Regions from separate parts of the Homo sapiens genome. Here regions 1, 2, 3, 5 and 6 are each reported to be linked to region 4. The links are microRNA targets in miRTarBase. Many come from high-throughput screens and were not tested one by one. Region 4 holds a microRNA gene; each other region holds the end of a gene's coding sequence.

What was found. The annotated mature microRNA hsa-miR-500a-3p reads AUGCACCUGGGCAAGGAUUCUG and lies in region 4 at 3,179-3,200, shown strand. An mRNA with a match to its seed (bases 2 to 7 or 8) in the 3' UTR can be bound and repressed. Matches are read on the target gene's strand: a 7mer-m8 pairs with bases 2 to 8, a 7mer-A1 pairs with bases 2 to 7 and ends in A, and an 8mer does both.
Region 1: the mRNA of CTDSPL is a reported target of hsa-miR-500a-3p. Seed matches in the 3' UTR shown: 7mer-A1 at 4,598-4,604.
Region 2: miRTarBase lists ANKRD27 as a target of hsa-miR-500a-3p. Seed matches in the 3' UTR shown: 7mer-m8 at 3,331-3,337.
Region 3: miRTarBase lists CFAP263 as a target of hsa-miR-500a-3p. Seed matches in the 3' UTR shown: 7mer-A1 at 4,064-4,070.
Region 5: the mRNA of RAB3D is a reported target of hsa-miR-500a-3p. Seed matches in the 3' UTR shown: 7mer-A1 at 2,304-2,310.
Region 6: miRTarBase lists DERL2 as a target of hsa-miR-500a-3p. Seed matches in the 3' UTR shown: 7mer-A1 at 1,209-1,215.

What each region holds. Positions count from the first base shown.
Region 1 is chr3:37,979,276-37,984,694 of GRCh38, forward strand. It overlaps CTDSPL (CTD small phosphatase like), which reads left to right. Exons shown (of 8, transcript NM_001008392.2): 8 at 1,467-5,194. The coding sequence ends at 1,592. Among named protein-coding and RNA genes, the nearest start is that of VILL, 8.8 kb to the right of the region's middle.
Region 2 is chr19:32,594,548-32,599,966 of GRCh38, forward strand. ANKRD27 (ankyrin repeat domain 27) reads right to left here. Exons shown (of 29, transcript NM_032139.3): 28 at 5,157-5,229; 29 at 2,459-3,831. The coding sequence ends at 3,598. Among named protein-coding and RNA genes, the nearest start is that of SNORA68B, 11 kb to the right of the region's middle.
Region 3 is chr16:58,277,838-58,283,256 of GRCh38, forward strand. It overlaps CFAP263 (cilia and flagella associated protein 263), which reads left to right. Exons shown (of 9, transcript NM_014157.4): 8 at 645-800; 9 at 1,854-5,419. The coding sequence ends at 1,940. PRSS54 (serine protease 54) reads right to left here. Exons shown (of 7, transcript NM_001305173.2): 7 at 2,160-2,920. The coding sequence ends at 2,387. Among named protein-coding and RNA genes, the nearest start is that of PRSS54, 14 kb to the right of the region's middle. RefSeq lists a silencer at 3,168-3,462.
Region 4 is chrX:50,005,304-50,010,722 of GRCh38, forward strand. It overlaps MIR500A (microRNA 500a), which reads left to right and starts at 3,128; the gene lies at 3,128-3,211. The region is part of intron 3 of CLCN5 (chloride voltage-gated channel 5); the gene reads left to right. MIR362 (microRNA 362) reads left to right here and starts at 3,661; the gene lies at 3,661-3,725. It overlaps MIR501 (microRNA 501), which reads left to right and starts at 4,419; the gene lies at 4,419-4,502. It also overlaps MIR500B.
Region 5 is chr19:11,321,906-11,326,937 of GRCh38, forward strand. RAB3D (RAB3D, member RAS oncogene family) reads right to left here. Exons shown (of 5, transcript NM_004283.4): 5 at 163-3,680. The coding sequence ends at 3,493. It also overlaps a transcript of TSPAN16 not described here. Among named protein-coding and RNA genes, the nearest start is that of TSPAN16-AS1, 3.1 kb to the left of the region's middle. RefSeq lists an enhancer at 2,343-2,552.
Region 6 is chr17:5,471,323-5,476,741 of GRCh38, forward strand. It overlaps DERL2 (derlin 2), which reads right to left. Exons shown (of 7, transcript NM_016041.5): 7 at 1-3,467. The coding sequence ends at 3,362. Among named protein-coding and RNA genes, the nearest start is that of DHX33-DT, 4.9 kb to the left of the region's middle.

The DNA of each region.
Region 1 (5,419 bases), not on the chromosome of region 4:
AACAAAGCAAGATCCTGTCGCTACTAAAAAAAAAAGAAAAAAAAAAGGCTGGGGTGGTGGCTCATGCCTGTAATCCTAGCACTTTGGGAGGCCGAGGTGGGTGGATCACCTGAGGTCAGGATTTCAAGACCAGCCTGACCAACATGGTGAAACCCTGTCTCTACTAAAATACAAAAACTAGCTGGGCATGGCGGCAGGTGCCTGTAATCCCAGCTACTCAGGAGGCTGAGGCAGGAGAACCCAGGAGTTGGAGGTTGCAGTGAGCTAAGATCACACCATTGCACTCCAGCCTGGGCAACAAGAGCAAAACTCCATCTCAAAAAAAGAAAAGAAAAAAAATTAGCCAAGCGTGGTGCCACATGCCTATAGTCCCAGCTACTTGGGAGGCTGAGGTGGAAGGATCACTTGAGCCCAGGAGGTCAAGGCTACAGAGCTATGATTGCCACTGCACTCAAGCCTGGGTGACAGAGTGTGACGCTGTGTCACACACACACACACAAATCACTTGAAGTAATTGTGTGGTTGTGTCACCAATTTTATATACACTTAGATTCACTTTTATTGCTTTTTTTCTTAATGGTTTAATTGTATTTTAATTATATAACACATTTACATGGTTCCGACATCAAAACTATAAATAAAGACAGAGAAGTGTGTCCATTTCTGCCCTCTCCTCCACTCTCTCCCCATCCCCTAGGCGTAGTCATTTCTTTATTAGTCCTTACTTTATTTTTCAAAGTTACGTAATAAATGTCTATGTTTCTAAGCTATCTTTAGATTTGTAAAAGGGCTAAAATGTTACTTTTAAACATGTTTGGTTTATTCAAATTTGTTTATAAATCTCTCCTTTGTACCCCTGGCTACCACCCCTCCCCACTCCTCTGCCTAAAACTAAGGGAAAATCCTGTCTTTGCCCATAGCTTCAGAATGTTCTGCAATTTTAGACTTTTACTTTTAACTGATCACTGTTAAGCAAGGGAGGAAATTTACCACTTCTCTTTGTGATGTAATATTGCACAGTGACCCTAAGTGGAAGCCTTCCTGTGTCCTGGATGTGAGCTCCGCGCTGTCAGTGGTTGGCTTGTAAGCTCTGGCTCCAAGTGTTCTGAGGTGCAAGGAACCGATCTTGTGCAGTAGAAAGAGCTTTTGGAAGTTGGCAAGTAGCAAGGCTAGTTCTCATACATTCTATGCTCTGGCCACCTTTTTCTGTGGCAGGAAAACAAAACAGGCAAATGCACACAAACTGGGTACATTTAACTTTGCCTCCCTGAGCCATCTCCCAAGCCATTTAGCTTTGGATTGGCCTCAATTTGAACAAGGGAACAAACAAAATCATGATGATAACGATGATGACACCAGTCGTCCTTACTAAAGAAAGTGCTCAAAGTCCGGGTACCCGGTTAGGTTAGGAGCAGCCCCCAGCGCTAGATGCAGTCCTGCTGCCTCCTCCATGCACTGTCTTCCAGGTGCCTGTGCAGTCCTGGTTCGATGACATGACGGACACGGAGCTGCTGGACCTCATCCCCTTCTTTGAGGGCCTGAGCCGGGAGGACGACGTGTACAGCATGCTGCACAGACTCTGCAATAGGTAGCCCTGGCCTCTGCCTGCCTCCCGCCTGTGCACTCTGGAACCTCTGGCCTCAGGGGACCTGCCTGTCCTCAGCTCCCTGGGAGCTGAAAGTGAGGATACTCCGTGCTCCAGGCCACAGGGTGAATGTGGCCATGCCTACCTGTTTTGTTTTTTTAAGAACAGAAACAACTATTTTAAAAGAACTCTTTTAAGAAATTTCATAAAGGGACATGCATTTTACTGGGTTTGCTTTTCTTAAAACATACCAAAAAAGAAAAAAATAGAAAAAAAAAAAAAAAAAGCTTGATCTCTATCAGACTTCCTTTCAACTGTCCTCCCCTCCAAGCAGACCACCTGTCCCCTTCTATCCCAGCTCAGAGCAGCTGACCCAACTCAGAATCTCTTTCCTACAGGATGAAGTGCCTTTTGAATGTTATTTTAAGCCGAGAGTTAATTTTTCTACACAACATATTTCCAGACATCTTTTAGTCTTTTATTGTCTTAGATACTATAAGAAGATGAACATGACAATTTTCTAGAACCTGGTAGCGTGTGTGTGTGTGGCGGGGGGTGCTGAGGGAGGGGAGTGAGTCACAGGAGCCTGTCCCCCAACAGGTGTGACTGCTCTGACAACCTGTGGCATGCTGCAGGGTCAGGCTCCTGATAGGAGGATTTCATGACTATGTCATTGTCTCCACTCATTTTTGACCCAGTTTGGAATGTATCTGCAATTGTGTGGCTCAACACTTTAGGAAACAATAGATTATTTTATATTATTATTTCTGATGGTGACAAGTTTGTCTTGAGGTCACATTTTCTCCTTGAAAAGTGACATCCTGTCACTTCTGCTCTCACACTACTGCCATACATTTGTGTTTTTTGTTGTTATTGTTTGGGTAGAGCAGTTACAAGAAACCCTAAAACCCTTGGATATAAAAGAAATCTGTTTATTGATTTTTAAATCTTTCCTTTCCAAAAGCTGGATACACATGGAGCTGTTTGGGAATTTTCCTTGCTGCTACCGCGCTGCCACCAAATGGAATTGACCAGCGGCTGTTACACTGTTCTTTGCCACTGTGCCTATGCTCAGAATATGCTCACTGCTAAGCTACAAACTCGGACAGGGTCAGAAACAGAGGTGTCCCATCCCATTGCAGCCTCCACCACCTGTAACCCCTTCCTGGCATTGGCCACTGAAGGGTACAAAGGCAAAAGGACCACAGCACCACTTAGGTGTAGCATGGATTTTAAACTGCAGTCAGTATCAGATCCTGTTTGATAAATAAGCTGACTGTTCTCTCTTGAGAACCTGTGGCCTCAACCAGCCACCAAGCTGATGTGGCCCAAGTCCATCTCTTGGTCTTCTCCTTTGAAGCACAGCCTATTTCTGAGCCAAGGGTTGGGGAAGCCTGTCTAGATGTGGGACTCATTGCCCCAAACCAGGGAGAGGAAGAGCTCCCACAGGGAGAGCCCAGGCTCTCTTTGCAGCCTTTCCCAGTTTGGTGTTTAAGCAGTGCCATGTTCCTTGTTTGACAACAAGACAGTCTGTAAAGTATTGCTCTTAAAAACAATTAAAAAGAACCCTTTCATATTGGCACCATTGCCTTAGTCCTCTGTGGGTTGGTCTTCAGCCAGCATTCTGGTGGGAGTGACTGGCATTAACAAGACTGGAAATCGGGGGTCAAAGTAAAATATCTTTGTTTTGCTTTCATTCACAAAGTAATGAAGCCAGCTGCCAATTACATCCTCCCAACAGCACTTTGGTCTGTGGACTGCTGTGTGAATATTCAGAAGGGAAGTAAGTATTCAGGGGGTAAACAGGTCTCCCAGCATTCTGAGTGTTCCAAACCAGTAATCCACATGCCAATTCAAATAGAACAGCCCCTTGCTAGATATTACCACAGATAATGACAGTTACATGGTAGAACTGCCCATGCCACAAATATTTATTTGGAAAAGTAGTCATTAAATGAACCCACTGCCTTAAATGTCTTGAATGTTGCAGTCAAGTGTCTGTCATGTGTTGATATCCACACAGAATTAGGCCCTAATGAGAGCCTTAGACCCTCAACCATGCCCCCTTCGTTGGCATCACAGGGCCTTATTTGGAAGAGCGGGCAAAGAGGATGGAAATCATAAAATATTTCATGGGAATCGAACCTAGGGATAGTGCTCCACTTCTGACGATGGAGTGAAGACACTTGGCAGACTTGAGCCAGACACTTCACCTAGTAGTTCCTGAAACTGTGAGCACCACTGCACTAAGCCAGTGCGGAGCTGTTAGGGACGGGCCCAGCTCCTGCACCACGGACACAGAATGTCTGGAGAGGGCCAGCAGGCCCTCTGAGGGTTCTGGAATCTGTGCACCTTATTTGACCACACTCCAAAATTCTGTTTTTATTTTAACCCTTGAATCTGCTTTATGTACATAATCAAAATATCTATATCTATATCTATATCTATATCTATATATTTTTAATCATCTACATGTAAATGAAGCAATAGAATTCTAACATAAGGCCAAGAAATGAGACGAATGTTTGGGGTTTATGTTTTTTAAGGTAAATACGGGTATTGTTTTTAATTATTACCATGTATTAAATTGTGGGCTTTGAAACCTAATGAAACCTGTTAGCCACTTCTCTGTGCCATATACTTCCCATGTTACCAAAATACCCCCAACTCTTTAGCCAAAAGAGAACCCTGACCTCCTGAGTTTCCATGCTCCTTTCTGTACCAGGTTTAAATGTAGTCTTCTGGAGAAGTATTTTTGACATTGAGCTCTGGGACAGGACACCTTGGGTTTGTGGACTGCAGCCCACTATGATGTTATTACTTCTCTGGCCAGGCCTCCAGTGGAAGTGCACAGGCACTCCCAATGTTGTTAATGCTCTGTCTTCCATTTGTTCTGGAATCCTACGTGTTGGTCTGTGGTTCCATGCATTAGCTGTTTGTAAATAATGCATTTGCATACTGAAAAAGGAATGCCACCTGCCACAGTTGATGGTGAGGAAGCTCCTTTGACGTGGTGCAATTTTGATGAGATGTCTCTGGGGACACGAGGATGCCCTAATGATGCTGACTTGTCATGGTTGCAGCATTTGAACTTTTGGTGTTAAAAAAAAAAACCTGTAAGTCTGTAACCTGGCAACATTTTACAACCCTGTATTTTTAAAGATGGCTTTCTAATAAAAAATCCAGAACCACACAGCCCTATGGTCAAACAATCCTACGTTTGTGCCTCTGCTTTTAAAGGTGCTGTGCTGGACAGTTGGCATGCCAGGGTTCGAGAAGAGTGAATGGCTTGACGTACTTGCAGTTAACTGTGCAAAATTGGCTGGCTGCCTCTGTTCCTACTGTACTGTAACTTTGATCATGTCTGTTCCTGTTCCATTCTCCCAGGAGCTTCTCTGCAGACTGACACACCCTCCCCCACCCCGGGTAGTGGAGATGCTGGTGTCTGGGTAGTCATGGATTTCTGCTGGACATTTGAATGTGATAAACAATCCAGCATTACTTAGGAAATGCTACATGCGGAATGTGCACGTTTCCAGGGGCGAGTATTGTCAATCAAAAGGTTTGCAATGATTTCCTTCCTGCCAAAAATAAACATGTGAAACTGCACTCTTTTGTGGATTGACTACTTTTCTACCAGAAGCGCCTCTCCTCCCTCCCTTCCCCGCCTCCTGCGCAGCCTCATGCCATCACCTTGGGTCTCCTGGTATCCCCACTTCCGGGGAACAGGGGTGGATGGGAGTGGGGCTGCAGCACTCCAGGAGCCACAGACTGATTTTCTAGCTCGTCCATCCCACCCAAATTGCCTGTCACTCCAAGGGTGACTGCTGTTCA
Region 2 (5,419 bases), not on the chromosome of region 4:
TCTTCCCACCTCAGCCTCCCTCGTAGCTGAGACTGTAGGTGCAAGCCACTGCTCATATATTTAAATCATAAACTTAACCATCAACCAGCTGTTTGGTGTAACCTTTTAAATGTCGTAGTCCTGTGAGACCTAGCACAGGATTAAATTCATAAATTTAACAAGGTGAATAGGATTAGTAAAAAAATGAAGGGAAATGTGGTTTGCAAACCCCAGTCTCTGCGTTAGCCAGCATACTACTGATACATGTTTAAACTGGAGATTCTACTATATTTGAAATTTGCAACTATTGTCAGTGAAGAAATAGAACAATATCTAACATTATAAATAAGTAGAACCGTTGAGAACATCAACATATTTTTAAAAGAATGATCATAAGATGAAATCTGGCTGGGGATTTTCTGTCAGGGTAAACTGGTAATTTAAAAAAAATTTGGTCGGGGATTTTGAAAAAAATCCCATTTACAGGTAAATTTTGCTTTAGGCCTCATTTACATACAAATGCTAGGAGGACATGAGGCAGTTCACAAGTTCTGTGCTTTCTCACAGGATAACCACTGTCCTAATGGCAACTGCTGTGAGTGTGTTTAAAGATGGTCAGACTCTTTCAGACACCTACCTGAGAGTGAAAAGTGGTTCCATGTACAAGGAGAGAGGTTCCTGATGGCAATAAGAGGCTGGAGTACATTTTAGGGAGTGGAGAGTGGTTATTCTAAACTTTCTAATTTAAATCAGTGAACTTGCGTTACTTTGAATTCAAAACTTTTTTCCACAAAAATGGAAATTAGGGGCATTAATTTCTCAACTGTCACATCAAGTTTTGGGTAGGGAAAGCAATTGGAAAAAACAACTGGTTGTTTGCTTTTTTTTGAGATGGAGTATTGCTCTGTTGCCAGGCTGGAGTGCAGTGGCATGATCTTGGCTCACTGCAACCTCTCTCCCAGGTTCAAGCAATTCTCCTGCCTCAGCATCCCAAGTAGCTGGGATTACAAGCGCACGCCACCACACCCAGCTAATTTTTGTACTTTTAGTATAGACAGGGTTTCACCATGTTGGCCAGGATGACAACTGTTTTTTAAAAATAATCGAGGGAGTCACTTAAGATGGAAAACATTACTGATGACCAGAATAGCTCAAAAAGAAACAGCATTTACCTCTCCAGAGGAAGGGTACACCAAGCTTGCAGCTGCCACTGCCAACCAGGCCTTGATCCTGGCTGTGAGATCCCTCGCAGTCCCCTTATTTTTCTGAACCTGTTTCCTCATTTGACAATTCTACCATTCACAGTGATTGTTGAAATTAAATGGGTATATGTGAAAATGTTTTCAGCTGGGCGCAGTCGCTCATGCCTGCAATCCCAGCACTTCGGGAGGCCAATGTGGGCAGATCACTTGAGGTCAGGAGTTCAAGACCAGCCTGGCCAACATGGTGAAACCCCATCTCTACCAAAGATATAAAAATTAGCCAGGCATGGATGGTGGCAGGTACCTGTAATCCCAGCTATGCGGGAGGCTGAGGCAGGAGAATTGCTTGAATCTGGGAGGCAGAGGCTGCAGTGAGCCGAGATGGTGCCACTGCACTCCAGCCTGGGTGACAGAGCGAGACTCCATCATCTCAAGAAAATGTTTTCAAAATTATATTGCACTACCCCAACATATTAGGTGGTGTCAAATGTGTGTATTTGTATCTTGAGAATACCTGTGCTGATAAACTGTATAGGATGTATTAATTAGGATGGTATAGAACCACAGCAGCTTCAGTCTATAAGGTGGTTTTGTTTAAAAGTAGGGAAGGCTGGGCATGGTGGCTCACACCTGTAATCCCAGCACTTTGGGAGGCCGAGGCGGGCGGATCACGAGGTCAGGAGATTGAGACCATCCTGGCTAACACGGTGAAAAACCCTGTCTCTACTAAAAATACAAAAACAAAAAAACAAAAACAAAAAAAACACTAGCCGGGCATGGTGGTGGGTTCCTATAGTCCCAGCTACTCAGGAGGCTGAGGCAGAAGAATTGCTTGAACCTGGGAGGCGGAGGCTGCAGTGAGCCGAGATGGTGCCACTGCACTCCAGCCTGGGTGACAGAGCGAGACTCCATCTCAAAAAAAAAAAAAAAAGGGAAAAGGAAAAATCAGAACAAAGAAATTAGCAAAGCAACAGGGCTCATTTCCTGTTTGTTTGGGGTAGGAAGCTGTATTCATTTTATTCTTCTGATTTCCAAAGAAAAACATTTTTGTGGGCCCGGGACACTGTGCCTACTGGGTTAAGTAGGCCTTGGTCAGTAGATGAATAATGAGCTAAGTGATCAAGTTCCCATGTTTCAATCTCACATCTATAACTGAAAAATGTATATCCATTCAATGGGGACCCTTTTTCTCACACACAAAGCACATGTTTACAGCAGACAGGCTGAGAAACATATCATCTGCAGCCAAACAACTAAAAAAAAATACCATGACACAGTCAAGAATCATAAAGTTTACTGTTTCTTTTCCATCATTTGGCACATATCCAAGGCACATTAGAAAATTAGAAATCATAAATTACTTTGTAGAAAAATAATCCCTCCCTTCCTTCTGTACATACACAAGTATTTCCAAGAACATGGACAAAACCATTTCCCTATCACAAGGTCATTTGAAAACGGACTCAGGACAAACCCATATACGTGTAGCTCTAGGCCAATAACATAAAAATAACAGTATAATCTATAGAAATTTATAAAAAGGAATAAATGGCAATAAATTCTAACCGAAAGTAACTCTGACCTGGTTTGTGCTGTTAAGTTTTGAATTTGAATCAAAAGACTAAGAAAAGATGTGCCAAATCTACTCTCTAATCCAGTAACCATCCCGTCAGGTGTGAGTGTGACAGACATTCAAGGGAGGTTCTCAACAAAAAGGGATGTTTCTAGAAATACTGCTACAGGTGCACGTGTAGTAACCGAATATCTGTACCTACTTGTTAGAAGGAAAATGATAACCACCCTTTCCCATGTGCATGATGTGGAACAGGTCTGATGCATCCTTTCACTAAAATGAATATCAAAATGGGATTGAGGCATCTTTTGGTTCGAGTGTTGCTTTGCAAAGAAACATTGTCCAGCTGCTGCTTTCTTCCTTCAGATATGACATTTCAGCCTGGCCTCTACAGTACCATGAAACCTAAATTACTTACTTCTCTCCAGCTTAATCCTAGGTGGAGGAATTCTAGCTGTGGTTTGTGAATGTACACAGGTCAGAGAGGTTTAGCACCTTTTGGGAGGAGGAGGTCAGAATGCGGTGGTGAAACCTCTCCCACTGTGACCAACAAACCCTCATACTTAAAAAGAAGCATGCACCTCTGGCTTAAGGATCTGGATGCTACTGGAATTTTTGTCTGTTTCAATTGTATTCATTAGCTTTGAAGAGGAGAGAGATGGTGGTGGTTAACTTTTTTGTTGCATTCTTTCCTGCCACAGAAAAGCTTTCAGGAACTTGGTGCTGAAGACTTCTCAAGCCAGTCTCATGGAAGCACATTTAGTTCTCAGATGTGTTCACGCTCAGCATCATCTTGTTGCATCCTTGCTTCCTAGCAGTGGGTTCAACAACTCCTCATTCCTGTTAGGACCGGGAAGCACTAACCTCTTGGGGAGTGGAGAGGGGGCCAGCAGCCTCCGGGCCCTGGGACACGACCGCATCCTCTACCGTGTGTCTCCGCAGCATCCGTCTGTGTCCAGGGCCAGTCTGTGTCAGTCCAGGCCTCTCTGGCCAGTCGCTGTTGCCTTTCTCAGCAGCATGAGATCCACTCTGAGCTGGCAGGTTATTCTGTCTCAGTGTGACACTTTGCCTCCCTGGCTAAAGAAAAAGTACATTTTTAACCGTTGACGTCCTCACTGTACTGGAAGCCACAACCATGACAGTGACAGCTGCCCCTTAGTGCCTAGTGTCACATAATGTGCTCAGTGCTTGACAGGCATAATTTCAATTCTCACATCCCTGTCGTGGTAACATGGCATGTGCATACTACATGTGTCAGAGTAAATGTTTCACTTGTTTTCACAATCTTTATGACTCTAGGAGGCATGTACTACTATTGTTATCCCCGTTTTACACCTGAGGAAACAGGATCAGCAAAGTTAAGCCACCTGCCTAAAGTCCTACAGCTAGCAAGGGAAAAGCTAGCACTTGATGGAACTCAGGCAGATTTCAACGATTCTGGCTTTCCCACAAAGCAGCAGGTCTCCTAGCAACACCACATAAGACTAAATATGGTATCAAAATTAGTCATGTTAATTAAAATCATTTTAATTATCTAAAACAATTTAGAACTTTTGTGTATTTGTTCCAACAAGCCTATGCTACATATGCTATAAATTCTCATCAGCAACAAGGAAAGCTGTGGTTCTGAGAAGAATCACTGTCTCCGATCACAGGTTTTCAATCAAGCTTCTGAGTGATTTAAAAATGCAGTAGGGTCCGGGCACGGTGGCTCACACTTGTAATCCCAGCACACTGGGAGGCCAAAGCGGGCAGATCACTTGAGGTCAGGAGTTCAAGACCAGCCTGGCCAACGTGGTGAAACTGCGTCTCTACTAAAAATACAAAAAAATTAGCCAGGAATAGTGGCACATGCCTGTAATCCCAGCTACTCAGGAGGCTGAGGCGGGAGAATGCTTGAACCCGGGAGGTGGAGACTGCAGTGAGCCGAGATCGTGCCACTGCACTCCAGCCTGGGCCACAGAGCAAGACTCTGTCTCAAATAAATAAATAAAAAAATGTAGTGGGAAGATGGCCACATAAAGAATTGTCTGAGCAACTGTACACCATACTTGGAGACATCATTTACCCATCTATATACAAACTGTCGTTTTCTTTCTTTGGTGATTAAAACCATAGTGAAATGTGGGATGTTTCATCTCCTATAAGCACCAAGACCTGTGGTTTCCCACACATGTAACACTTTCCACTCCTCTGCTCAGAAATGTACTTTTAGTTATAACAATCAGTGAAGTCTGTACTCTACACTGTCCCATGAAATAATTCCAGTTTTAACTGCTGCTAACTCATACGGCGCACGGAATAATGAAGATGACGATCAAGGAGACGTGTTTACCATGGATTACTTTTGACAAAGCCGGGCTTTAGAAAATATGATTAAAAGCCAGTGTTTAATAACTTACCTCATGCAAAGAACCTTCGGTTAAATTAGGGACACTTCTATCTCTTGCCATAATCTCCCTTGAAGTCTTTCCCCTAAAACCCAAAATAAACGAAAATAAATATTTGGGACAGTGGCATGAAACACTCTGGTTGGCCACAAGGTGGCAGCATTTTTGACATTAGTAGGTGCAGATTTGTCCATAACCAATTACAATTGAAGCAGCTTACGTGCAGCTTGGAGTAAACTAGGGGCAAAAGCACAGAAATCAACTTGAGTTTCATA
Region 3 (5,419 bases), not on the chromosome of region 4:
TGTTTGATTCCGCTTATATGAGGTACCCAGAGTAGTCAAATTCATAGAGACAGAAAGTGGAATGGTGGGTGCCAGGGGCTGGGAGAGGAGGGAAGGAGGAGTGATTGTATAATGGGTACAGAATTTCTGTTTTACAAGACAAAAAGAGTTCTGGAGATGGATGGTGGTGATAGTTGCACAAGAATGTGAATGTACTTAATGCCACAGAACTGTATAGTTAAAAATGGTTAAGATGATAAATTTTATGTTATATATATATCTTATAATTAAAAAAGACATGGAAGTGAATTGAGTCTGATCAAAGTATACTTAAATACACAATTTTTCACACACAGAAAAACCCTAAGAAGTCAAAATAAGTACAACATATTCCTTAATAAAGGAGAGGAAGAGGAAGGAGGGAAGAAAAGGAATGAAAGAAACAAGACTATTTAGACTGCACTAGGTGTTTCTGAACTGGCTTAAAATATGTTTGGGAAAAAAATCAGAATCTTGTGATTCCCACCCCTCCCCAACCTCTTTGAAAATGTAAACATTATTTTTGGAACTCTATTGGAACTATGGGGAGAGATGGCAGGGCCAGTGAGTTCTCAAAGCAAGAGCTGCTGGGGTTCCCTGGGTGTAACTGGTCCTTCCCAACCCAGGACCGGGCCAAAGCCGAGGCAGTGAATAAGAGGCTCCGGAAGCAGCTGGCCGAGTTCCGGGCACCACAGGTGATGACTTACGTCCGGGAGAAGATCTTAAATGCGGACCTGGAGAAGAGCATCAGGATGTGGGAAAGGAAAGTGGAGATAGCAGAGGTGAGCCACGGGGAGCCCCAAGATGGGCAGTCTTTTATGTCTTCAACGTTTTCACTTAGGATTTTGTTCTTTGGGGTAAGAATACAGATGTTTGGATATGTAATTTCTGGGAGAAACCTCAGCAGTTGCTTTAACTATTAAACCAAGACGAAGGATGATTTGTTTTTTTTGAAAGTTCCCCCTTTTGCATTGTTAGGGGCAGAGTCTTTTCCATTTTCAGGGAGAAACTCTGTAGTAATAGTGTGTTTTTAGTTGCTTGTTATCTTAATGAATTCTAGAAGTTTCTGAATCCCTCTGCACTGGTAATTTAGTGATTGCTACTTTATACATGGAGAAGTCCATTTTTTTTTTAAATGAGATAGTGATGGATTTTTTAATATCACTCAGGACCTCATTCCATGCATGTACACAGTCGCCATGGGTCTTTCTGCTTTTGAACGAATCCCGCAGACTTTGAATATGGTACCATGTGACAGGAAGCACCCTTGCTCCTGTGAGCTGCGGGAGATAAATGGGCAATGGGAAACCATATGCTGGTGTCAGAAGAAAGACAAGCACCTAGGCTGCCGTGGCCAGGTTGCAAACTGAGGTCATGCAGGACATCATCAGAGTAGCTTAGAAAGCCAGTCAGGTCACTTGGAAAACTGGTACCTTGGCGTTTTCACATCTAGACCCTGGCTCCCATTTCCTGTGTTACTTTGTCCTGCCTCTCCTGCGGCCATTTTGCAGCAGAGAGTAAATTAGGATCCAAATTTGGGCCCCTCAGATCCGAAGCTGAGAAGTAGCAGAATCGTGGCAGGAACATGCAACTTCTCACTTTACTGAACAGAAGAAACATGCTCTATAGAAAAATCTTCCGGTGGGTGCTGCCCCTTTGTGGCCCCTACACAGCAGCATGCATGGAGGACACGCTGCCCCACACAGGGTTGCCTGCACCATCACGGGGCTGGATGAGGGCTGCATTCTCAGTAGCCACAATCAGTTTTCCCCAAGTGACTTTCTCCCCCATCTCCTTTATCATTTTTTTTCTTTTTTTCTTTTTTTTTTTTGCAGATGTCCTTAAAAGGCCATCGTAAGGCTTGGAATCGAATGAAAATAACCAATGAGCAGTTGCAGGCAGATTACCTTGCTGGGAAGTAGCCAGAGGCAGGCCACGGCTTACAGACCACTACATGACCTATAAAAGTAATCAGCTCCTTTCTAGTCACGGGCTCCTCTCACTGTTCCCTGTCTGCCTGGTGTTCCCAACCCCCCACCCAGGCTGCGTATCATCTCCTGGGCCACATCTGCCCATGGGGAGTGTTTTCACAGCCTGGCCCCTGGAACTGTTACCACTGAAAGAACCACAGGGCACTCTAATGGTTTGACACTTGTTAGCCAGCATTTAGTTCACAAGCATAGTGAAAGTGACCTTCCCACACCTGGGAGAGGGATAGAGGAGGGAGAGCCAGCCCAGTGTATGCCATGGGCTTATCCGTGGCAGCCCCAGTGTGCAACTATCAAAAACAGACATCAAAACAGCATGGTGAATGCCTGGCACTCAGCATTCTCAGTTTACTCTTCAGTTTGGTGGGGTAGCTCCTGGACTAGATACTGCTGCAAAAGAAAACAAGCACGAAGGAAACCAAGATGATTTCTTCGGGCTGATACAACCTGTTCTGACCTGCAAAAATCCTACCTTCCCCCACCTCCCCACCGTAATAGTCATAGTATAAGGGTTGTACAGACGCCTCAGGAGACCTGCCTGATTCCTTTACATCCTTCTCCCTAACATCTAGACTATCTCTAGAGCTGTTTCCTAGTCGTGAATGCGTGATGGTCCTTCTTTGTCCCTGCAAGTATGATCCAACATGGCCCAGTTCAGAATCAGAATATGTCTTCTGTGTCATGGTGGCATTTGGTCCATGGTGGGAGAAAGAAATCAACTTTTCCCAGTGGTGGAGTGAGGACAGGGGAGGGCCGGCCCTCTCAGCCTTGGATGTGATCCATTTGCTGTAGTCTTCCACCTTGGTGTACAGAAACAGGCCAGGGCACGTCTCACCACCGAAGTTCAGGACTCCTCTCAGAACCCACAGATCGAACTGCTGTAGCTGGCACATCATTGGGCTTCCTGGGTCCCCCTGTGATAAAAGACAGAAGGCTTCAAGTCTTAGAAAAACTAGTTTTTGTTGTAAATCTATCCTTGTGCAATATACTGTTTGTTCTAGAAATGTTTTACGCTGGTTCTCACTGGAAATGGGGCAAATTATAGGATACAATTTCAAATCTAGGCAGCCACCACCACAAATTCCAACAAGATGACTTTTCCTTTTATTATGCAAATTAGCTGTGGACTTCTGCTGATTGCCTATAGCTTCCTGGTTCATATTTCATTTTCTTGCCCCTTTCCAGTCCTTTGGCCAAACCTTCCCTCTCTTCTGGCTTCTCATTCCTGAAATGTTGGTGTTTGTTTCTGTTTTGTCCTGAAATGCTCACATTTTCCCTTCTCTGCCTTGCTTCAACCCTTAGTGTAAGCCACTTCCTGCCACCTGGCAACTGCTTACCAGCCTGGCTGGCCGTGCTCTGGGTCTTCCCTACTCCCAATGGAGCAGTCCTCTGGGACTTGGGAATTCTGCCACATACACTTTATCTAACTTAAAGTGACGGAGTAGAAGCTTGGCATCATTAGCTAGATATGGGACCCTGGCAAGTGACCAAATCCTCTCTGAGCCAAGGTGGGAACACAGTTAATGCCTGTAACACGTGCTGAGCACAGCACAGTGCCTGGCACACAGCAAACACTCAATAGAATATTAGCTACCATCATCCTGATGTCGCTATAAAGGCCAGCATTTTTCTGAAAAGTTGGGGAAAATGGGAAAAGCAACAAGGCAACTAGTAGGTATCACTTACCTTACCTGCCCAGACCCCACACCCCTAGGTCTCCTCTCAAAGGAATTCCTGCCCCTCCCATGGCCCATCTTGGTCCGAGAAGGGGGTGGTCATCCCCAGGCTAGCCAGCCACTTCTGACCTGTGTGGCCTGCCTGGCTGGAAGGCCCAGGCAATGACATGTTGCTCTCGCAGTTTGGACTGAGACATGGAATGGGGCCGCAATTAACAACAGGAAACAATCTGAACAGACTGAACCACGAGCAGCAGAAAGGCAGAAGAGCAGCCGCTTCAGCCCCTTACCATCCGAGACCTGGGTGTGTGGTCTGTCTTGGTCACTCTCTCTGTCTCTCTTTCTCTCTTTCTTTCTCTGTCCCCAAGGCTGGAGTGCAGTGGTGCAATCTTGGCTCACTGCAACCTCCACCTCTGGGATTCAAGCAATTCTCCCACCTCAGCCTCTCGAGTAGCTGGGGCTACAGCTATGCGCCACCATGCCCAGCTAATTTTTTTTTTTTTTTTTGAGATGGAGTCTTGCTCTGTCCCCCATGCTGGAGTGCAGTGGCATGATCTCGGCTCGCTGCAACCTCCTCCTCCTGGGTTCAAGCGATTCTCCTACCTCAGCCTCCCCAGTAGCTGGGATTACAGGCGCCCACCACCACACCTGGCTAATTTTTATTTTTAGTAGAGATGGGGTTTCACCATGTTGGCCAGGCTGGTCTCGAACTCCTGACCTCATGATCCACCCGCCTCGGCCTCCCCAAGTGTTGGGATTACAGGCGTGAGCCACTGCACCCGGCCTAATTTCTGTATTTTTAGTAGAGATGGGGTTTCACGATGTTGGCCAGGCTGGTCTTAATCTAACTTCAAGTGATCTGCCCGCCTCGCCCTCTCAAAGTGCTGGGATTAGGCATGAACTACCATGCCCAGTGGGGTATTCTCTTTCAATAAAGCTCCTCTTTTCCAAGGAAGCCACACCAGAACAGAGATGAAGACCAGTGGGAAAACATGGGAGCAACTCCGTGGGCAGGCCAGCGGGGAGGCCATGCTGCAAAGCTGCCGTGATTCCCTGGTGATCTCTCAGCAGGCCAAGGCCAGACATGTGAGGAAGGCCTTGAGGACTTCATTCTGTGCCTCTCCTTGGATGGAAGGGGGTGCTTTAGTGTGGCACTCCTGACTTTTCAATTGACTGGTGAAGAGGCCCTTGTGTGCACCTCACTATGTCTGCCTAGGTCATGGGGGCTCCCTGGCCAAGAATGACGTGGTTCCCCCTTTCATCAGTCCGATTCGCAGTTTGTCTTAACTGTAGTGGTATAGCCAGAGCAAGAAAAAGAATGTGATTTAGGACAAATGATTGGATGAGTGATTGGTAGATGTCCTCAGCTATGGCGTGGTTTTGCAGGTCACTGTTCCACCCACCTGGGCACAGCATATACGCTTTTTCTCTTCCCCATAATCCTGTAGGGGCTGCGACTTCTGAAGCACAAGAGGCAGAGGCGAACAGCTCCAGGTGCCCCTCTGGAGCTACCCTACCTCATCTCCCAAGGGAGCGGCCACAGCCCAGAGTGGGGTCTTTCATTTTGTGATCTTTTCCCTTGACATTCAGCAAAAGCCCTGACAGTGGTAGAATAAAGGCAGGATGGGTGAGTGCAGAGTGATTCTGCTTTTGTTGGGTTTCAGGGAAACCCATAGGCAGATTCTGAACCTGGTGGTTGATTCTACATGTGGGAATTGTGGCTTTGAAGACCTCTGG
Region 4 (5,419 bases):
CAAAATAACTGATGATCATCTTTCTGTGATGTTAGTTGCCACCGATGCTCAATTCTTAGAGCCGTTATTTCATTAGGGGTTGCAAAATGATGATATTCTAATCCCATTATTCTCTTGATTTATTAGCTGGAATACTTCTATAAAGAAAAACTTCCCTTCATCTGCTATTTGATCACCCAGTGTTGCCGTCTTTATAGGCAAGATAGGATAAATGTTTGGTTCTCTTTATTTATCAGTACTCAGAATAATGAGTTGGTTCACTAGCTTACTCTAAAGAGGATTTTTTAAAAAAACTATTATAATAAACTCATAGATTTAAATATATTTGGACTTTTAATCCATTGCAGTTCTTGCCTTCAGTGAAGCTCCAGTGCCCCATCTTTAGCCAGTAGGAGCTTCTTCAAATTGGTTCCTCAGTCCTTTTGACATGCCTCCGTAGTTATCTGATAGCTTCTCCGCTTTCAGAGATGAAAAAAATGTACAAAGCTCATCGCAGATACCTTCCCCAGGCCTGGAATCTGCCATGTCTTCAAGAAGCCCTGGTTTCTTTTAATCAGACATGATATTTAAAGACCATATTTGCCTCTGGATTGGTCATTGTATTTAGGCTTCTACAATGATCAGAACAGAAAAATGTTTTGTTTTTGTGTTTTCTTGTTTCTAGATAAATACATCATGATTCCATTATACTTCTGATTCAAAATCAGGATTACAGTTTTCTGTGTCTTTGCTTCACAAGTATGGTTCTGACTGTTGTATGGCAAATAGGAGGAGAAAGTGCAGAAACTGGGAGACCAGTTAGGAGGCCATTGAAATAATTCAGTTGAGAGATGGATGGAGGCCTACATCAGGGTGATCGTGGTGAAGGTAGTAAAAAGTGGTTATATTTTAAAGTTACAGCCAGTTGAGTTTACTGATACATTGCATGTGAAGTGTGAGAGAAAGAGGAGTAGGAGACTGAGCCCTCTCTTCCCTCTTTGTCACATATGAGTTGGGTACATATGCTGACACTGCCTCTTTAATCTGTAGCATCCGCATGCAAGTGCTGTCCCAGTGCAGTACACCTGGGCTAGGACTCACAGATGGTATGTTATGCACAGAGCAGAGAGTGCCTGTCACCTCTCCTAGTTCCTTTCAGAGAGCTTTTTGAATGCCTGTTGGATTTGGGGATCCAATAGTGGCAAGAGCATCAGGGACCCTGGTTTTACTGTGGGGTGAGCTTGTGCCAGAGAACACAGTTCATCATTCCCATTCAGCCTGCCTTCATGTGTTCAAGGGGCTGGAAAAGGGGAGCTTTTTCTTTCCTAACTCCCATGCTATCCTTGGGGTACAGGTGCCTGAGCCTTCTCATTTGCTCCTTCTCTTTAATCCTTGATACTGGTACTAGTGCTCTCCACATGCAATGCACCTTGGCAGGGATTCAGATGGGGTGAGCCTTAGCTGCAGATGGAAGGACAGAGCCCTTGTACATCGCCTACCTCTCCTGCTGCCTGCCAGTATTATTTACTCCTGTAGGGAGCCAGAAGAGAACAGTACAGCCACAGTCCCCTGAGTGTACTGCCTAGCTAGCACATATAGGAGGATAAAGCTCATTTGTACTCACTGTGCAGGTGTGCACACATGCTGGGGATACTGGAGAATGAATTTACTTTAGTTCCCACCCCCCAAGCACCCCACCTTGTCCCCCAGGATGGTCAGGCATCTAGGGATGTAGACCTGTATACACGGAGTCCCACTGATCAGGTAAGCAGTGGGTGGTTCCTTCCTGCCCTAACTCTACTCTCTTTGCCCTCCCAGAAAGGGCAGTGAGCTGTCTCGGCATTCTTCCCTTAGGTAGCTGTTGAATGAAGATGCACTTCCTTGTTAATGTTCTCTCTCACAATCACAGATACACAAATACTCGTATATGCACATGTGCACAAGCAAGGCATACAGGAGAATGAGCATGCAAGGGAGGCCCACATGTGGCTGGGTGCCCAGCATATGCAGACATGTGAGCATACAGGGACAGGAGAGACAGGAGCCTTTTTGATTATACTCACAGGGCCAGATGCCCCCATCTTTACTCATTTTCTGTCTCTCTCTCTCTCTCTTTCTCTCTCTCTCTCTCTCTCTCTCTCTCTCTCTCTCTCTCTGTCACACACACACACACACACACACACACACACACAGAGAGAGTGGAACTTCTGATGTTTTCCTTCATATCCCTTATGTGAAGGGGCGTGAACTTTGTTGACCTAGGGAGATTGAAGGAGAACCTCATCAACTCACACGTGAGGAATTTAAGAGGATGAATCTGTGTATCCCCTTGTGCAGGCACTCACACTCACAGATACTCGGACCTCTTCTCTCTCACCTGTCCCTTGCATGCAGGAGTTTCACCATCCCCCTTAAAAATGCACATTCATTCAAACACATATATACATAAAAATAGAGAGTAAGAGGTAAAAATATTGACGGCTGTGTGCCAGGTACTATACTTTATTTCATTTTCTTGACACCATTTAAGAGGTAGGCTTTAAATTGTCCTCATTCTTCAAAAGTGTTTAACTTGACCTTGGGAAAATCAGGTCGATTCTCTAGGCTAATATGTGGTAGAGCGTGCATTTGAACCAAGGTTCGTAGATACCAAAGTGCCTGGTTTTTCCACTACATTAGTGATTCTCCCAGTGTAGTCCCTGGACCAGTAGCATCAGTATCACCTGAGAACTTGTTAGAAATGCAAATTCTTGGGTCTCACCCCAGACTCACCAAGTCAGAAACCTCTGTAACCTGTATATTACCCAGGTCTTCAGATGATTCTGGTGCATGTTAGAGAACAACTGTGCTAAACTGTACTGCCTTCTTGTTGCATAGTCACACAAAGCATTTGCGGGATCATGAGCTTTGGCGTTATATTCATTCTCTCTTTCCTCCCTTTCACACTCCTCTCTCCTCCCAGTCTCTTTATAGGTTTATACTTTTTTGTTGTTACTATCTGAGAGAACAGACAAAATGTGTGTTTAACTAGACATCTTTAATGCAAAGCTCAAGAACTGTTCTCTTTACTTCTATATCATGACAAGTAAGTACCTTGTGTGAAGAAGAATGAGCCCTCTCACTGAACATTCACAGGGCTTTGTGTTCTGCTCCCCCTCTCTAATCCTTGCTACCTGGGTGAGAGTGCTGTCTGAATGCAATGCACCTGGGCAAGGATTCTGAGAGCGAGAGCTTCATCTTCGTGTAGGACAGAGCGTCTTTCTGTCCTCCTATCATCCATTCCACAAGTATTTATTGACCACCTTTTCTGTATATGATACTAAGTTGAGTAATGAGCATACAGTTGCTAACAAGACATGCTTGGTCCCTACCCTCATGGAGCTACAGTTGAGGAAGAAGAATGGAATTCCTCATCATCCATTACACCTACATGCCCTGAGAGTGGGTGGGCCACAGAGTGGACTTCTCATTACCACTGTCACCCACAAACATACACAAAAGCATGAATCTTCTCTGATCTCACATGGAACTCTGCAGGAGAAAAGATTCTCTGCCTTTCTGTAAAGTCCCTAGTAAATGACACTGTATATACATGAGAGTGAGACTTGGTTATAGCTACACATGCACACATACAAACACACAAAAAGGGCAGGTGTCAGAGCCTTCTTGTCTGCTCCCCCTCTTGAATCCTTGGAACCTAGGTGTGAGTGCTATTTCAGTGCAACACACCTATTCAAGGATTCAAAGAGGCTGAGCCTTGTCTACATGTAGAAGGACCAACAACCTGTCCCCTTCTTTCACATGTTTGTGTTTGCTATGCGGTGCCAGATCCTGCACTGGGTGGTGGAGATACAACGGTAAATAAGACAGCTAAGGTCCCTGGGCTCTGTAGAGGGCACCTGTGGGAGAATGAACTTCATCATTGCCCTGGACAAGCTTACACCTCTTTGAGAGCATGAGCTTTCTGTTTACTCCCAGCTTACTATGTGTCAGATACTGTAATGGGGAAACACACATTGGGTGATGAGACTTGCACAGCCAGTCTTTGCTCTCAGTGAGCTTATAGTTTACCAGAGAAACAGAAGAGAATGAAGTATCCCAATTTTCTGTACCATCTTCCAACATGTGCATGTACATGTGTGCCCACATACAGTTTGTCCCAACCTCCTTGCTAGGCCCCAAATACATCCAGCACCTGCAGACCCTCAAGTGTGATCTGAAAAAGATGCCACTCATATCTTTCATTCTAGTCTGAGGTTTTGTCTGAGAGGGCATGTCCATGTGGCCTTGTGCAGGGGGATGAATACATATGCTATCCCTGAGGAGAGGCATCTGTCTTAGCAAATGCACACAGAGATACTTTGCAGGAATGGGACCATGAAAGTCAAATATATATGGAGATATACATGCAGGGTGCAGGTGCCTGAGTCTTCTGCTCTGCTCTTCCTCTCTAATCCTTTGTCCCTGGGTGAGAGTGCTTTCTGAATGCAATGCACCCGGGCAAGGATTCTGAGAGGGTGAGCCCCCTCTGCGTGGAGAACAGAAGATCTGTATGTCACCTCTCAGCTGCTTGCTGCTTGCCTGCCTGCTCTCTGACCCTCATTCATTCTTTCCTTCCACAAATAATATGTATTGGGCACCATGATGGGCATTGGACACAGAGAAATGAACAAGGCAGACTTCGCCCCTGCCTTCCTGGATATTATAGCCTGAGAGGAGAATGGACTTTGTCACCACTCATTGCCCCTGCATATACTGAGGGTGAGTGGGCCACATAGGAACTTCTTATCTACCCTCTTCCCACCTTAACCCACCCATAAGTGTGAGTCTTCTCATTCCTGCTGTCACATTGATACTTGTTTCTTGTTTTTTCCTTCTTTCCTTCCTTCCTTCTTTTCTTTTTCTTTCTCTTTCTTTTCTTTCTTTCCTTCCTTTCCTTTCCTTTCTTTTCTTCTCTCTTTTCTTTTCTTTCTTTTTTGATGGAGTATTGCTCTGTTGCTCAGGCTGGAGTGCACTGGCACCATCACAGTTCACTGCAGCCTCAACCACCTGGGCTCAAGCGATCCTCCCACCTCAGCCTCTCAAATAGCTGGGACCACAGGCTTGTGCCACCATGCCTGGCTAATTTGTGTTTATTTTTTGTAGAGATGGGGTCTCACTATGTTGCCCAAGCTGGTCTCAAACTCCTAGGCTCAAGCAGTCCACCAGCCTTAGCCTCCCAAAGTGTTGGGATTATAGGTGTGAGCCACTGCACCCAGCCTGATACTTGTCGAAGCAACTTCTCTCTACTTTAGTTCAATGCAAGGTTAATGCACTAGGCAAGAACAGCAAGCCTTCTTGTTAGATGCACATGTGAGGTGTACAGGTACTGGAATCTCCTGTCCTGGTTCCCCCTCTCTAATCCTTGCTACCTGGGTGAGAGTGCTTTCTGAATGCAGTG
Region 5 (5,032 bases), not on the chromosome of region 4:
AAGGTCAAGGTGGTGGCCATGGGACCCAGTGGGAGGCAGCCCGAGGCCCGGTGAGGTTTCTGCTGTGTCTTGAAGAGCCCTTGACTGATATCTGCTTAGTTGCAAATCAAACCCCCTTTCCCAGAAACGCACTTCACTAATGGAAATAAAAGCACAACTATATTTGGGCACGACGGATTTAAGTTTTTCTTGTTGAGAAGAGTACATCTTTCCAAACTGGACATCAAGGAATTGCTACACAGAAGAACCACATCCAGGATAGAAAGGACCAGCCAGAGCTCGTTCAGTAGTGTATTTCAGAATCATCAGGGAGGAGCCGGTAGCAGAATTATCCCGTTAACACTGAGACCACATTTCACCTGTTACTTATTTTTCTAAATGGAGTAGGAGAGAAAGATGCTAAAATGTGATCTTGGGAGGAGTCCCCCAGTCCCCCGAAAAAGAAGAAGAAAAAAAAAAAGCAGAACTCCAAACCCCTGTGGTCATGGCAATTTCCCATCAAAACTGCCCATGTAAAATAAACACAAGCTGCTAAAAGTGAATGTTAAGAAGGAAGGCACTGGTTAGTGGGTGGTCCTGACCAATCCCCTGGAGCTGGAGAGGGGTTTTCCCACGGCCTTTGGTTTAATGTGTCTGTAAACTCAACAAACCTCCGTTTCCCTGAGGTAATCTGCAAAAACATCAGTTTTCAGTCCCCAGAGACCATTTCCAATTAAACCTCACCCCCCAAATCATTCAATGTAACATTTGCCTTATTTTTAGAAGAAACAAATGTTCCCATATTATTCCCAGTTTTTGAGAGAATCCTGAGGCAGCTCTCTCGGCTGCTACTTGAAGTTGAATTCTTGAAAAATCTTATGTAAACAGAAAGCTTAGGCCAGGTCAGGAGTAAAATGCAGTCAAAGCTGTTTCTCATCACACAGGTGATTACAGGTTAGCTCTGCCCTATTCAAGACAATCTGATCCATTCCTTTTTTTGACAGCAGTTTAGAGACAATTGGCCAACAAAACCAGCCTGGCCAACAAGGTGAAACCGTCGCTACTAAAAATGCAAAACTTAGATGGGCGTGGTGGCAGGTGCCTGTAGTCCCAGCTACTTAGGAGGCTGAGACAGGAGAATCGCTTGAACCCGGGAGGTGGAGGTTGCAGTGAGCTGAGATCATGCTACTGCACTGCGGCCTGGGCGACGAGCGACTCTCTGTCTTAAAAAAAAAAAAAACAAAAAAACCTCAGCAGGCCATACTGCATCTTGAGAAGTCTTTTTGAAGCTACTTTAGTTTGACTTTAGTGTTAAAGTAGCTAAAAATTTTTGACTCCCGCCCACATATTCAGATACCCTCACTTTGTGCATAGGATTTGTCCATTACACCTCAGTCATCTAATTTGTTGGTATAAAAGATACCCTCGGCTGGGCGTGATGGCTCACGCCTGTAATCCCAGCACTTTGGGAGGCCGAAGCAAGTGGATCACTTGAAGTCAGTTTGAGACAAGCCTCACCAACATGGTGAAACCCCTTCTCTACTAAAAATACAAAATTTAGCCGGGTGTGGTGGCAGGTGCCTGTAATGCCAGCTACTCGGGAGGCTGAGGCAGGAGAATCGCTTGAACCCTGGAGGTGGAGGTTGCAGTAAGCTGAGATTGTGCCACCGCACTCCAGCCTGGGCAATAGAGCGAGACTCTGTATCAAAAAAACAAATGAAAAAAAGATACCCCACTCCAAAGTTCTAAGGGTAGCCTCTGGTATGAAGAAACCAGGGCTCCCTAGAAATAAATCTAAACTTGAACCAGGCTTTCCCCCTCACACATACCCCAGGGAAGAGGCTGAGCTCATGAAAGCTGCAGGAAGTCATTTTGGCTTCAGGGGCTGGGAGAGCAGACACAACCTCTGAAACAGAGTCAGGGACGTGGGAACATAAAACATCCACTTAGCCATCCTAACAGTGCTGGTCCTGTGAAGGGGTGTTGGTTGGTGTTTGGGAGCAAAGAAAAGGTGCTGCGCCCCTAGAGTTTGGAATCTGATGGGCAGAAAGTGCCTCTAAACCGGAGGTCAAGATGTACATCTTCAAACTGCACACGTAACCTCTGAGCAGAAGCCCCTGGAGGTGGGGACCCCAGCTTCAGAGACTCCCCGGCACTGATCACAGTCCATCCCCCCCATTCACATAAGGTCCTGCCACTCTCAGGCTGTCTACAAAGTACAAGCAGTGACAGCAAGTTACTCAATCCTACCTCCTCACCCCTTCCGCCCAACCCCCAGCATCCCTTAGAAGTGACCCCTAGTTTGAGGCTGTGGTGAGCTATGATTGCACCACTGCACTCCAGCCTGGGTGACAGAGCCAGACCATCTCAAAAAGAAAAAAAAAAAAAAAGAAGTGACTCCTCCATTAGCAAAAATTGTCACATCCCTGGGCCCTGCCGATGACAAGGATTGGGAAATGGACATTGGGTCTTGAAGGGCCCCCCTCAAGTCGGAGCCCAGGTGCTTACATCAGAAAGTCGCCGACAACTGCCTGCGGTGGCTGGGAACGTTGCTTCATTTCCTTTTCTAGCAGGATGCATGATTGGGCAAGAACTTGCTTAAAACACAACCAGCTAAACAGCTAAACAGGGCCTGGGAGGGAGGCCCCAGCCCCAGGCTCCTGGCTCTGAGGTTAATTAACTTCTGGCCGAAAGCCCAGAGCCGGAGTGCTAGGGGTTGGGCGAATCTCTGCCCAGTCTAATGTGGTCCATAGTTCCAGAATTCACTTCAGGATCAGAGATGTGGTGAACACAGCAAAAACAGTGGCAGGGTCGTGGGTGATGTGGATCTTGGGGGAAGCTTGGAAGGCACTTCTGGGGTCCCTGAAGCCGGGGGGTTGAGGGGATCTGACTCCCTGTCCCTTCTACAATGGGAAAAGGCTGCTTCAATGCTGCTTTTCGCAAGTAGAGGGTCTGCAGGGGTCAAAGGGATCACCATCCCACCTTGGAATCCAGAAAGTTCGTGGGGGCAGGCTCAGAGACCAGCCTGCAGGACCTGAGAAAGAGGCGCCGCCTTCCCTGGATGAACTCCAAGAACCCACACTGTGCGAGGAAGATGAACCATCTTCCACCAGCTTGGGAATATCAGTCCTGCCCAACCCAGAAGAGACCTGGAAAATGGTTCTAAGCTAGAAGGCACCACGGATGCCCCTCCATCAGAAAGAGTGGGACGTGTCACCCATGGCCACCCTCAACACACCCTGGAAAGCAGCAAGCTCATGCACGTCAGTGTCCCTGGGCCTCTGCCTGCCATGCAGAGCTGAGTCCCCATGGTCCGCAGCCTCCCACCGGGGCTGCCTGAGGAACCTGGCAGCCACGGCGACATTGTGAAGGAATGAGCCATGCAGGAGTCGGGGAGCAGTTGACAGGAGGGAAGGGATTGCCCTGAGCTTGGAGATAACCACTGTGGCTCACGCCTCGATCACAGTCCCTGCCGAGGCAGGAGAGGGGTGGGTGGGGGGTTGGGGGCCATCTCTAGCAGCTGCAGCTGCTGGGCTGGGGGGCTGGAGCATCCCCCACGGCCGGGCCTTTCCCGTTGCTGCCTGAGCTGGAGCTGGGTTCCAGGGACTCGTTCATCTTCTCGCAGATGACATCCACCAGGCGCTCGAAGACCTGCTTCACATTGATGTTCTCCTTGGCACTGGCTTCAAAGAACTCGAAACCTGGATGAATGTTAAGGTGGGGACACTCGTAAGACCCCTGAGGGCAGAGTCTCAGCTGTGGCATCACAGAAACCTGGCTTCTAAGCCTAGTTCTGCTCTTTATCCTGCTGTGGGACCTTGGTTGTGTGCCTTTGCCACTCCAAGCCTCAGTTTGCTCACCTGTAAAATGGGAATGATGATCCTACCAATGATAAAAATCTGTGGCAGGCCAGGCGCAGGGGCTTATGCCTGTAATCCTGGCACTAAAGGAAGCTACGGCGGGAGGATCGCTTGAGGCCAGGAGTTCAAGACCAGCCTGGGCAACATAGCAAGGCCCTATCTCTACAATAAATTTTTTTAAAAAGTAGATGGGCGGCCAGGTGAGGAGGCTCATGCCTATAATCCCAGCACTTTGGGAGGCCGAGGCGGGAGGATCATTTGAGGTCAGGAGTTCAAGACCCGCCTGACCAACATGGTGAAACCCCATCTCTACTAAAAAGACAAAAAATTAGCTGGGCATGGTGGCACGCGTCTGTAATCCCAGCTACTCGGGAGGCTGAGGCAGGAGAATTGCTTGAATCTGGGAGGCGGAGGTTATAGTGAGCTGAGATCACACCACTGTACTCCAGCCTGGGCAACAGAGCGAGATTCTATTAAAAAAAAAAAAATAGAGGGGCATGGTGGCGTTCACCTGCAGTCTCAGCTACTCGGAAGGTTAAGGCAGGAGAATGGTTTGAGCCCAGGAGGTCAAGGCAGCAGTGAGCCATGATCACACCACTGCACACCAGCCTGGGTGATGGAGCAAGACCCTGTCTCAAAAACAAAACAAAACGAAACCCTGCGGCTGCAGCCATGGTCTGGACAATCCTAAGATCTCTTTGTCACAAGGCAGTGGCTGCAAGAGTATAGGTGGGAGGGTACATGAAGAGTTCTGCTGCCCTGCGGCCATGGCAGTGCCCACAGGTGGCTATAGCTCAGCTTCCACCCAATTTCTGCTGCACAGAAAGGCATGGTCAGGAGACCCATCAAGTCACATTTTCCATTGCTTTTTTTAAAAGAGAAACGGTCTCTCTCTATTGCCCAGGCCGGGGTGTAGTGGTATGAACATGGCTCATTGCAGCCTCAACCTCCTGGGCTCAAGCGATCCTCCCGCCTTGGCCCCCTGAGTAGCTGGGGCTACAGGTGTGCCCCACCATGCCCGGCTAATTTTTCAATTTTTTCTTTTGTAGAGGTGGGGGTCTCGCTATGTTGCGCAGGCTGGTCTTGAACTGCTGGCCTAAAGCGATCCCCCCGCCTAGGCCTCCCAAAGTGCTGGGTTTACCAGCGTGAGCCACCACGCTGGGCTTCCTGCATCCTTTTAAGGTTCCTGAGGG
Region 6 (5,419 bases), not on the chromosome of region 4:
GGATACAAAAATTAAGACATGGTCCCTGCCCTTAAGGAGCTTACATTCTCATGAGGGAGACAAGACTAATATACATGTACCAGCTAGGAACAGTACAAGACAATATATAATTTGGCGTTAAGAATGTCATACAGACTTGAAGCTTTATAGGGATTCAGAGACAGACAATAAAATAGGCCTTAGAGTCAAGATTTTTTGAGGAATCAGGAACAAGGCCAGGCCTTGAAGAACTGAAGAGACTTAAGTTGAGGTCCCTGTTAGGTAGAAGTGGGAGTAAAGTTAAGAAAAAAACAAGTATGCATATAATGTAGGGGCTTACTAAGAAGTCACTGTGGATTTCTGAGCAGAGGAGTGACTTGATCATACAAGATTCAACAATTTTATTGCAAACTCATAAAATATGTTTAAGTAGCCTGGAGACATCCTACAGAACACAGAAAATAATGGCAGGATCATGACTAACAACATAGCTGGAACTCACCTGTCAAAGAAAAACAGCTACAACATAAAACACTGGCAGGATAGATGACAATAGTTCTAGGAAGCCCATTACTCAACATGGCAATAGCTCCAATGCTTCCTTATTTTCAGAGGCCCCAGAGACTGAGGGTTTCATTATCCAGACCCAGGACTTAGGTGTTCTGCTTCTAGAGACTACACAAGAGGTATGAAAGATATGAGGACATACAAGAGTGACACAGAAAAAACAAGAGGAAGAGAGAAACAAATAGAAATCCATACTGGAAAAAAACGCACCGAAATGTATATAAAATGTATCTCCTAAGGAGATGCAATTTGTATGTCCATTTATTTTTAAATGAACGTATACCGTATTTCCATAACAAACAAAAAACACTATGCTTTAGTCAAGTGTGCTTTTCAGTATCACTAGAAGAATCCAGGAATCCCTCAAATTATGTGTAAGGTTAGTTGGTTGGTCTCAAAATTCCATGTATCAAATCTCACTTTCAGTTTATTTGCATTGTGAAAGGGAAGTGTGTTCTGGAAGAACTAAGATTGAGAGGTAAATTGGGGAGAAAGTAAGGACTTTTCCTTATGTCCATTCAAGCACAGGTATCCTGTCAAGCAACACAGGGCTAGGAATGGTGGTTGTAGGGCTGGCCAAACTGATGAGAGGTGATTGAAATTACCACTGCTCAGGACACAGTGTAGTCAGTCACACAGCAGGGCATCCTGCCACTGGGAACTTGCACCCTATAAAATCGGAGAAATCAAAAACCCTGTAACTGCCTGCCTTTAGGCTGTATATTCAAAATGTATTTCCTGTTTTACCTAGTCATTAATGTATACAGATATTCCCTACTTAAATGAACAGTGAGTTAACAGATTTTAGGATTAGTATTTTACCACAAAAATGCCATTCATTGCATAACTCCAACTCAGGGAGAACAAATAAAACTAGAGAAACTCATTTCTAGCCCAAAAACAATTTAAAAAAAAAAAACAAAAAACAAAATTCTAACAAACGTCACTGATAAAGCGTTCTTGAGCAAAAACAAGATAGGATAAAACTTAAGAATCCCATAAGGATTATACATGCTAAGATTGGCTTTTAAACTTTGAAAACCTTTTTTAAACTGCTTAAAAAGCAGTCCCATAGACCCAGGTTCCATAAAATTGCAACAATCATATTCAAAGTTATTAGCAACATGTAAAATACTTAAATACCATTAGTTATGCAATTCCATTTAAAGACATTAAAACACTTTTCACTTCAAAAACAATCTGAAAATTCCTATTTAGGATGTCCATTATGTTTAAGCCTATGTCTATCTTTCTGAGGACAATGTCACATTCTGGAAAGCTACCCCTTAACAAAGGTTGAATGAACTACTACTAACAATCCACTTTTGGGAAAGGGACCTGTGCCTACATGCCGTTAATGAAAGCTGTTTGGAATCATCTCTTTCCTAGGGGTGCTCTTTCGACTCTTCCAGGTTCTGGAAGTTACTTAAGCAGTGTGAATGCAAACCTGCTGAGACTCAGGGAAGACTTAATATTTAGGGGAAGTATTTATTGAACCACAGCATTAAGTGTCTACTTCTGTGGACCCTGTCTAATTTCTACCTGATTGGGAAGGTAATCCAGGTACTTGGCTCTGAAAAGGTTCTTGAATTTTCACGAAGCAAATGACTAATGTTAACTAGCCAAAGACCCTGGAAGAACATATGCCTAGCTAACTGGTATCTGTTCGTCTGGCTCCAAAGTCAACATTCTAACTTGGTTTCCAAATCTAATGAAAATCTGAGACCCTGTCTCTATTTTTTTTTTTTAATTAAAAAAACAAAAAACAAAACAAAACAAAAAAGGCAAAAAAAAAAAAAATGGCTGGGCATGGTGGCTCATGCCTGTCATCCTAGCACTTTGGGAGGCTGAGGTGGGAGGATTGCTTGAGTCCAGGAGTTCAAGACCAGCCTGGGCAACACAGTGAGACCCCATCTGTATTTAAAAAAAAATTTTTAATTAAAACTTTTTTAAAAATAAAAGAAAAAAAAAGTCTAATGAAAATCTTCCTAGTTTTACAAAAATGTGGCCCTTACCAATCTTTCCCTGGATACTTCTTAATGGAGAAATGTAAGTAAAGCAAATAAGATGCCACATTAGCTTACAGCTGACTTTCCTATAGCTGAATTCCTACTGCTACAAGAACCATCCTCCCTCCTTTTTTTTCATGTTGTCTGACAAAGTTTGGCAAAACCCAGATGCAAAACAACCTATCCAGATGACAGAAATAAATCATCTTCCTGCTGAATCTTGCATTCTGAGTTAGTAAGATGTACACAACCACAGCATGACAGCCACGTATTTCCAATCCTGAAATGAAATCCAGTTAAAAGTTGTGAAGACACAGGAAGAACAGCTGTGTAAACTGTTCTGAGCTCAGATCTACGCAGGAGGGCTACAATACATTATCAGAATTTAAAAGATCACACACAAAAGCTTTAATACAGTGAGAGAAAAATGGAATTCCGTTTTATTTTGTCCTCTCTGAAACTTCCATTTACACCATGGCCTCATCTATCAAGAAGAGGAAGAAAAGGCTCTGCCTTATACCATAAAAATCAAGTACTCATGTACTTGTTAGAGGTGGCAGGATATTTGTTTCTCCAGTTTTTTGGCTCTAAGAAATTACACTTTCAGTACCAGTGTAGTGAGGAACCACTGGCAAACTGTTGGAAATGTCTTCTGGATTAGTCAGTGTACCATTTCATAAAGTGCTTCTGGAGTTAAAATCTGCCAAGCTGTCAAAAGTGTCCACACTTTTGCAACAAAGGATAAAAGATCCCAGTGGGTATCACCGAGTCCTTCCCAGCTGGGTCTCATTATTGGCACTGCTGCTTTAACCTCCAAGCCGCTGGCCCTCACCCCAGGCGAAGCCTCCTGGCCGTTCCTCAGGTAGTGGATTGTAATTTGGATCCTCATCTGGTGTATCAAAAATAGCTTTCCTAAAAGACAAGCAACAGATATAATTTGGTCCCAGAGTCATCTCAGGTCCAAAGTACTACAAGGTCAGTTCAGGCCCCATAGGGTTTCCACCAATAGGTAAGCATTACACCTGCCTGCCAATTAAACAGTTAACATATTGTAAGAGCATCTATAATTATTAACATTTACATTAGCTTTTATCTTTTACTGATTTTTACTACAAAAGCAATCCAAATCATAATAATTACAGAGAAGGAGGAAATAGAGATGAGCAAAATATCCTCAATTTCCAGAGGTAACTATTGTCAATGTTTTAGTTATTCTTTGGGAATTTTTACATTATGTCATTTTACAAAAGTTAGATCACACTACATGTTTTGTAACCTGACTTTCACATATTTATCATTAATGTTTCCCCATAACCAAGGTATCACCCAAGTGTGCATCAACAGGTGAATAAACAAAATACGGTACACACATATAATAGAATTTTTTTTTTTTTTTTTTGAGACGGGAGTCTCACTCTGTCGCCCAGGCTGGAGTGCCATGGTGCGATCTCGGCTCACTGCAACCTCCGCCTCCCGGATTCAAGCAATTCTCCTGCCTCAGCCTCCCGAGTAGCTGGGATTACAGGCGCCCGCCACCACGCCCGGCTGATTTTTGTATTTTTAGGAGGGAAGGTTTTCATCATGTTGGCCAGACTGGTCTCGAACTCCTGAACTCAGGTGATCTGCCTGCCTCGGCTTCCCAAAATGCTGGGATTACAGGCATGAGCCACTGCACCTAGTCAACATGGTGAAACCCTGTCTCCACCAAAAATACAAAAATTAGCCTGGCGTGGTGGCGCATGCCTGTAATCCCAGCTACTACTCAGGCGGCTGAGGCAGAAGAATCACTTGAACCTGGGAGGCACAGGTTACAGTGAGCTGAGACTGCTCCATTGCACTCCAGCCTGGGCGACAGAGCAAGACTGTCTCAAAAAAAAGGAAGGAAATTCAGGCACATGGTACAACATGGATGAACCTTGAGGACTTTACGCTAAATGAAATAAGAAATAAGCCAGACAAAAAAGGACAAATATTGTATGATTCCACTTAGGTACAGAGTAGTCAAATTCAGAGAAAGAAAATAGAATGGTGATGGCTGGGGTGGGGAGTTGTTTAATGAGTACAGAGTTGTAGTTCTGTAGGATGAAGAGAGTTCTATGGATGGTGGTGATGGCAGCAAAACAGTATGAATATACTTAATGCCACTGAACATTTAAAATGAGTTAAGATGGTGAATTTTATGTTAGGTATTATTTTACCACAAAATTTTTAAAAAATTAACAAGGTATCCCAAGAAAAATTACTGCAGAACATAGGAGGGGATAGTAAATGTCCAAAAGACTCCCTAAGTACTATGATGTAGTAATTCAAAACCTCACTAAAGAAGGAACCATTAAAGCAGCATCCTCAATTTGCACTTATATTTCTACTTGTAATCCTCCACAGTTGATAAAATTAGAAATGTATCTGAAAACTTCTGATTTATACTGGAGTCAGAAAATAGTATAATTCAAAATGAGTTTTTAAAATTCTTACAAATTAACAATAAAAACAAACATACCAACAGAAAAAATGGGCAAAGGGCTGAATATGCAATTCAAAAAGGAAATCCATGTGGTCAATAAACGTGAGAATGTTTGCTCTCACAATAATCAAAGGAAAGTATATTAGAAACTGAGATCCCGGCAGGTGTGGTGGCTCATGCCTGTAATCCCAGCACTTTGGGAGGCCGAGGAGGGTGGATCACCTGAGGTCAGGAGTTCAAGACCAGCCTGACCAACATGGCAAAACCCTATCTCTACTAAAAATACAAAATTAGCCGGGTGTGGTGGCGCATGCCTATGATCCCAGCTACTAGGGAGGCTGACGCAGGAGAATCGCTTGAACCCAGGAGGCGGAGGTTGCAGTGAGCCGAGATTGAGCCA